Homo sapiens: one gene and its partner. The protein of the gene in region 1 interacts with the protein of each later gene in a pairwise test. Each region holds a gene or a part of one and is shown on either strand. Other genes may lie near its edges.

Evidence for each region.
Region 2: the proteins of SCARF1 (region 1) and SLC7A14 interact in binary tests that used the Homo sapiens proteins (3 or more experiments, as listed by UniProt).

Annotation. Positions count from the first base shown.
Region 1 is NC_000017.11:1,642,933-1,646,903, forward strand, and holds the start of SCARF1 (scavenger receptor class F member 1 isoform 1 precursor), read right to left. Parts: upstream 2,801-3,971; 5' UTR 2,766-2,800; coding exon 2,665-2,765; exon of another isoform or gene 2,628-2,664; intron 2,308-2,627; coding exon 2,246-2,307; intron 2,004-2,245; coding exon 1,902-2,003; intron 1,036-1,901; coding exon 510-1,035; intron 1-509. Other genes in the region: RILP (rab-interacting lysosomal protein), read right to left, coding at 3,510-3,687. UniProt on the Homo sapiens protein: Mediates the binding and degradation of acetylated low density lipoprotein (Ac-LDL). Mediates heterophilic interactions, suggesting a function as adhesion protein. Plays a role in the regulation of neurite-like outgrowth.
Region 2 is NC_000003.12:170,481,576-170,485,075, reverse strand, and holds part of SLC7A14 (solute carrier family 7 member 14), read left to right. Parts: intron 1-1,553; coding exon 1,554-1,762; intron 1,763-3,500. UniProt on the Homo sapiens protein: Imports 4-aminobutanoate (GABA) into lysosomes. May act as a GABA sensor that regulates mTORC2-dependent INS signaling and gluconeogenesis. The transport mechanism and substrate selectivity remain to be elucidated.

The DNA of each region.
Region 1 (3,971 bases):
CTCAGGTGATGCACCCGCCTCAGCCTCCCAAAGTGCTGGGATTACAGGTGTGAGCCACCCCACCTATCCGACTTTTCCCCTTTCTCGTTCCTCTGCTTTGTATGTTTTTTGAGAGGAGCACCGCGAAGCCCTGACCCCTCCTCCCGGCGCCCCGCCGCGGCCACCTGTCTCCGCTCCGCCCCGCCCGCTCACAGGTCTCCGCGCAGCCTCGCTCACCTGTGTCCGCCTCCGCCCCCTCCCCCGACCGCTCACCTGTGCCCGCCCCGCCCCCACCCTGCCCGCTCACCAGTTTCCACCCCGCCCCCTCCCCGCCCACCGGTGTCCGCCCCGCCCACCGGTGCCCGCCCCGCCCACCGGTGTCCGCCCCGCCCACCGGTGTCCGCCCCGCCCACCTGTCTTCGCCCCGCCCCCTGTCTCCGCCCCGCCCCCCTGTCTCCGCCCCGCCCCGCCTGCTCACTTGTGTCCGCCCCCGCCCCGCCAGCCCACCTGTCCCCGCCCCGCCCGCTCACCTGTGTGCGCACTGCACCCCGTGGCTGCCTGCCGGGCAGGGCAGCTCGCAGCGCGCTCCGCGGAAGCCGGGCGGGCAGGTGCACTCGCCGGAGGCGGCGCTGCAGCGGCCCCGCACACACTCGCACTGCTGCTGGCATTCGGGACCCCACCAGCCCGGCCGGCAGGCGCAGCGGCCGGAGTCCTGCTCGCACGGGGAGCCGTGGCAGTTGCAGCGGAAGCTGCAGCGGCGCCCCCACCAGCCCGGCTTGCACACGCAGGCGCCCGTGGCCTGCTCGCAGCGCGCCGCCGCGGTGTTGCACTGGCACGGGCGGCGGCACGTGGACGACCACCAGCCGGGTTCGCAGTGGCACACGCCGGTCGCGGGGTCGCAGCGCCCGTGGGGGCCGCAGGCGCACGGGAACTCGCAGCGGGCTCCCCAGCGGTCGGCCTGGCACTGGCACGCGCCCGTGGCTGGCTCGCACTGGCCGTGCGGGTGGCAGGGGCAGCTCTCACGGCAGTCGGGGCCCCAGTACTGGCCCGGGCAGCCTGCGGGGGTGGGGACGGGAGGGGTCAGCGGGCTCAGGGCCGCGCGCAGACCCTTACCCTGCGTCCCCTTCCTCAAGGAAAAGGGGCGCTGGGCCCATCCTCCAAGAGCCGGGGACAGACCCTCAGAACATCCGGCAGCCTGTCCTGGGCAACACTCACTTCCTGCTCCGCTCTGACCTACAGAAAACCCTTAGCCATTAGTGGGAGGCTCAGCCTGCCACTTCACATTCCAGAACACACTCAGAGATCCTGAGTGGGCAGGGGACTTGCCCAGAGCGTGGCACCGAGGTTGGTGGGCCTTCCTCCATGCCTGCTCCTCCCTGCCGAGATGGATCTCTGCTGGGCTGGAGGAGAGCTGGCTTTCTCCTGATCTCAGGCCTGGATACTGCCCGCCAGGGTGTCGGGAGAAGCCACCTTTCCCCTAGTGATTCCTTGATTCCTGATGCCCACCCTCTGGCTCTCCTGCTTCCCAACCCCTTTCCCTTCCCTCTCTTTCTGCCAGAGAGGGCAGAGAGCCCAGCCAGGGGCCCCCTTCCATCCACTGCCCATGTATAAGGTATATGTGGGAAAGGCAAGTAATACACTCATTTTACAATGAAGGGGAATCACAGGTTTTCTGAGAAGTGGAAGAGGAAGATGCTCAGGTGGGCAGTGCTTTGTGGATGTGGGTAAAAACCCGGTGACTCAGGTCATCTCCCGGGAGTGTGTGTCACTTCCTGTCTCTGGACCGCAATTCCTCAGTGAAGCTGGGGGGGATTCTGGCCCTGCTGTCCTGAGGCTGCATGGCTACCTGCCTCGCCTGCTCCCACACCACTGCCCCCGTACCCAGCTCTGCCCAGCAACTTCATCTGGCCCTTGAGACTCACGGGAGCTGCAGTGGGCCCCAAAGAATCCAGGCTTGCATCGACAGAGGCCCGGCTTCACACACACCTCGTCTTTCTGGCAGGCGTCCGGCCCCTCACAGATGGCTGAAAGACACCCCACCCAGGTTGGAAAGACGGGAGCAGGACCAGGGGACACCCCTGCCCTCTCACTGGCTCCAGGGGCCATGCCTCCTCAAGAGGTGCCCCTTCAGGCCTGGGGGTGCGTCACAGGAGAAACCCTGACTCCTGGTATCAGGAGGGGCAGGCCCCATGGGGTAGGAAGGAAGGGTTGTCACTGGGCTACGGCCTCCCTTCTCCTTGGCTGAGGGTCTGTCCTGGCTACTCACGGATGGTGCATTCTTGATCCTTCTGCCTCCAGCCTGCGCAGCACTGCAGCTCAGCAGAGGGGCTGTGGGGCAAAAAGGGGTCAGCCGGACATGGTGGGGGGTGCAGCCTGGCCCTGAGGAAGGTGGATCACTGTCTCTGGCTGCAGTGGGGGAGGCTGCCTTAGCCCCCTGGGGAGGCCTAATGGATCTTTACAGCTAGGGTCCCCAGCCCCTCCCCTCTCCTTCCCTGACCCTTCCACCATCTGCCCTGGCTGGCCACTACCTGCCAGACCGCCATCAGCAGTCCCTTCCTTTCAGCCTAAGCCCCCTTCCTAGTCTCCTCCTTCCCCTAACGGCCTCAACACCGGTTCAGCCACCCGCATCAGACTCCCACGAGACCCACCTGCTGGCCACACGCATCAGACTCCCACGAGACCCACCTGCTGGCCACACAGACGTGCTGCCCTTTGGGGTCCAGCTCGGACCCCTGAGTCCCCCGAGTCCAGAGCAGCAGCAGCGGGAGCAGCAGCCCCAGCCCCATGGCAGGCAGCTCGGTGGGAGCGCTCGGGTTCGTCTGGCCCCCACAGCTCCCAACCCCCTCCCTGCTTCCTCTCAGGGCTTTTCCTGAGGAAACCAGGCCGGAGGGGCGGGCTGCCACGAGGCACCTCCCTGAGAGGGAGGGGGTGGCTGGAAAGACTGACACTCAAAAAAAGAAAGGGAAAGAAAGGCAATGGCAGGGCTGACTGGCCTGGGCCTGGAAGGGCCAGAAGAATGAAGTTGCAGGTCCCTGGGTGCCGGGGCCAGGGAAGGGGGTGGACTGAGGCTGGGAGCCACGGCTTTCCATCAGGCCACACTCCCAAAGCAAGGCCTGAGCTGCAAGAAGCCACCCCACCCAGTGACTGAGCAAGGAGACCAGCGAGGACCCCTCAGCCTGCCTCTGCTCCTGGCAGGGTTGGGAGGTGGCACAGACATGGACAGACAGGCGAGGAACAGTTTCTGTGTATTACGGGCAGTTCTTTATTACATGAGCTCAGGCCGTCTGCACAAAGCCCTGGGAGCTAGGCAGTCAGCTCTCATTTCATGGATGGGGAAACTGAGACTCAGAGAGGCACTCTTATATCTGGCCCCAGAGGCTCGGTACAGAGACGTAGAGAGGGAGGCGGGCTGAGACCCCGTCCTGCCCTGATGCAGGCCAGGATTGGGGCAGACCCCTGGCGAGGGCTGTGAAGGCGGGAGCCCTGTCCTCATTTGAGGCCACACATCCTTCCACAGCCAGACCCCTAAGTCAGGCCTCTGGGGCGGCTGAGGCCCCCAGACAAAGGTGTTCGTGGAGGGCAGAACAGGGCGGATCAGGAGCTGGAGACTGTGGTTGGGCCTCCTCTTCTCCCCCTAGCTTGCTGGGTGCAGGGCTGCTGGTCTCATCCTCAGAGGATTCAGCTTTACCCCGATACCATAGGCCAAAGCTGGAGAGAGACAGCCAGAGGCACTTTGAGCCAGGAAGCCAGAGAGGTCAAGGATATGGGTGAGGGCAGGGGATGGTGAGAAAAGGGGAGAGGGGGAAGAAAGGGCAGCCTGAGGGAGTGTGAAGGTGATGGGGGCCAGGGCCAGAGAAGCAGGAGGGGACGGTGTGCTTAGAGCCAAGCACAGCAGGGTGACGGGCAGAGAAGCGGGAAAGGGGATCCTGAGAAGGACCAGCCAGGGCCCTTCCTCCCTCCCCACACTCTTGCCTTTCCCCTTTCCCCAACAT
Region 2 (3,500 bases), on another chromosome or scaffold:
AGGACACTCTGCATTTCCCCTTCTACTCCTCCTTCATTCCCGCCCTTCCTCCAGGAGTGGGCCCTTATCACACACAATAAAGTCAATCATCACAGTGCCCTCCTTAGAATAGCACTTTATAGACCACAGAGTACTTCTATGATCCACCAACTTTTTACCCATCCTGATCTAACTCAGGAGACTCCCTGAAGCTGGAGGAGGCTCAATCCCACTCTCCTCCAGCCCACCCTGCCCCATCCCCAGAGGAAATATTGCAAGTGGTTATGTTACTAGGAAACATTCTCTTTCATACTGCACAGGCCTTAAACACGCCCTAGGAGCTGTTTGGTCTTGTACTGGTCAGCAGGCAGCCCCTCCCCCACCATGAGAAGAACAAGGTTGCTGGGCTTTGCTAGGACATCCTGTCCTCCTTGGTGGCCCTTGGCTCCACTGGAGGATCTTGGCTCCAGAGGAATAGGCAAAGAAATGGTCTACATGTGACCACCCTCTTTCCTTCAGGCTTTGAATCCCTTCTTGATGTCAATTTGGCCTTCATAGGCCTGGGGGGCCCCCCATATCTGGCCATATGACTGGTGGCTCCATTGCCTATGGCCAATTCTGAAGGCAGGGATGTTAGGCAGATCAATAATATGCGAGGGGAGTAGGTCCTGGGAGCCCCCAGTTAAGTGCTTATCACCTCCCCGATGCACATGCATGCCAGTGGCTTTGTCCTGTCCATACCCTGATTTCTCCCCGTAGGCAGAGTGTTGAAGGAGGGGTGGTAGGGTAGAGGGAATAGCAAAGACATTCTGCTCTCTATTTCCTCTTCTGCTCCTCCCTCGCATCTCCCTCTTCTCTGGGGGTGGACCCTTATAGCACACACAGTAAATGATTCCTGATTAAGCAAAGCCATAGTTGTCTGACAGCCATATAATCAGTAGGACTTGATTCTGTCCTGATGCCATCATTTGTCTGTTGGCCTGCCTGGATCCTAGGACTAAGCTAGAGAAAGGAAATAGAAATATGAGTCCTTATCTGGGTCCCAACAGTTAATAGGCTATAGACCTCTTAAGCACTTATCTTTGGAGATTTTATCTCTGGTGTTTCACAGTGAGAGGGAGTACGGATAAAACCCTGTAGGACCAGAAAGCAGAAGAGAAATGAGAGTCTTGTCCACGTGGGCAGGGTGCTCATGGTCCCTGCCAGGCCCTGGTTGCAGGGCATTGGCTGCAGCTCCTTCCTTCCAGAAATATCTGCTCTCCACTGAACTGTTAGCATAGCTCTGCTCATGGGGCTGAAATACCTGCAGACTTACTCCTCAGATATCAAAGGACCAGAGAGATAGAGAGTTTCTGGCCCAGTCCACTAAATTCACATGTGGGGAAATAATATTGAGCAAGGCCTAGAGGCCAGATGACTGGTCTACAGTAAAGGCACATGCCAGCAAGTGAATGGATCCAAACTGCCATGCAAGCCTCTGCCTCCAGGGGCAGGGCTCTTTCCTCTCCCGTGGGGCCTCTATCCATGCTGTTCTTCCCCTGTACCTCCAGCCCTGTCTTCTCTTGTTTTAACAGGTGAGCGTGATCTTAACTCTGATGGTGCCATATTATACCATTGACACGGAATCCCCACTCATGGAGATGTTTGTGGCTCATGGGTTCTATGCTGCCAAATTCGTAGTGGCCATTGGGTCGGTTGCAGGACTGACAGTCAGCTTGCTGGGGTCCCTCTTCCCGATGCCGAGGGTCATTTATGCCATGGCTGGTGACGGGCTCCTTTTCAGGTAAGGGCTATGCTCCATGAAATTTATCCTGCTCTGCCACGTCTGTCCAGGGAGAATGTCTACCCACTGTCAGACTGACTGTGATTTTGACATCAGTGCCTTTCACATGGACTGTGGACCTTGTTATGTATCCTGAAGAAAAGTCTGAGTAACAGAGCTCAGGCCCTGAAGCAGCCCCTAGTTTAACTCTGCAGTCCCTTAATCCAGCACAAGCTGATGTGTGTCCCCCCACTGTCCTCCCTCCTGTCGACATTGCGTGCTCCTTTGTGAAGATGATGGGGCCAAACTGCTGTACTGGGTGGCCTCCAGAAGGAAGAACCATCCTAGGGACATCTTAGGCCTGCCCTCACATTGAGGCCTGGTAACTGCCCCACTCTCCACAGCCCCTCTGAAAATGAAAAAAAAAAAAAGTCAACAAAGAGTAGATAAGACCCTCTGAACAGATCCTAACAATACCTGCAACACCAGCTGCCATTTATTGAACATTTGTGTGTCCTGGGTGCTGTGTATACAGTATCCCATTTAGTCCTCACAGTAACTCTATTTTGCATATGAAGTCTACTAGGACTCAGAGAGGTGAAACAAAATTGCCACAAATCCCTCAGCTACTGAGTGGCAGGTCAGGATTTGATCCCAGAACATCCGACTCCAAAAATCAGACTTTTAACCACACCAATATATTGGCAGTTCTTGCCCCCTACATTGGCCATGAAGTGGCCCATCTGCCCATGGTACAAAGGGGATGTGGCCCCAGCCCTTTGTTTCCAGCATGAGGGGCCTGCTGAGAAGGCATTCTTCAAGTGCACAAAGCAAGGAGTAAACCGTGGAGGCCAAGGAGCTCTCAGGTGTGCAGAGGGGGCCGGTTCAGGGACTTTGTCTCTGCAGACATCATCTTCTGACTCATTTCCCCTGCATACTCTCTGAAGCCATCACCAGATCAGAGCTGCTGTGATTAGGTTGCCGAACAGATCAAGAGGGGCCTAGGGTGATGGAGGCGTGGGAACTTCACACATCCAAAAGATTTTTCTGCTGTCAAAGAAACTAACAGGAAAGATACTGGGGCTTCAAACACATTTACAGTCTTGTGTGAACCATAAAAATAAGGGACCAGGAGGAGAGGGGAGAGGAGAGGGAGCCTATTGCACATGCCATTCAGTCGCTCTTCTTGGTCTCTTCTTCAGTCAGTAACTAGCTGGACATAAATCTGTATCTACGAGCACAGTTTCTCAATTACTGTGCTATTTTGCCAACTAAACCCATGAACTTTTGTTATAGGTGGTGTCTCAAGCTTTGGCATAAATCAGAATCCTCTGGAGGTCTTTTAAAGCAGTTTGCTAGGCCTCACCCTACTATGATTCTGGTATAGTAGTTATTGGGTGAAACCTGAGAATATACATTTCTAACAAGCTCCAAGAGAATGCTAAGATGCTAGTTCACAGGTCAGGAGGACCCCCAAGCAGGTCCATGACTTCCTCCAACCATCACTTTTTCACGCAGAGCCTGGGCTTCAATCTAGGTTTCTGAAAGACAGACCTCCTAGGTTCAATCAACCCTTCCCATTACATAATGATTAGGAACTTTACTAAAGAACTTTGCCTTAAAATCAAAGAACTAGTCTAGGCACAGTGGCTCACACCTATAATCCCAACACTCTGGGAGGCTGAGGTGGGTGAATCATGAGGTCAGGAGTTCGAGACCAGCCTGGTCAACATGGTGAAACTCTGTCTCTACTAAAAAT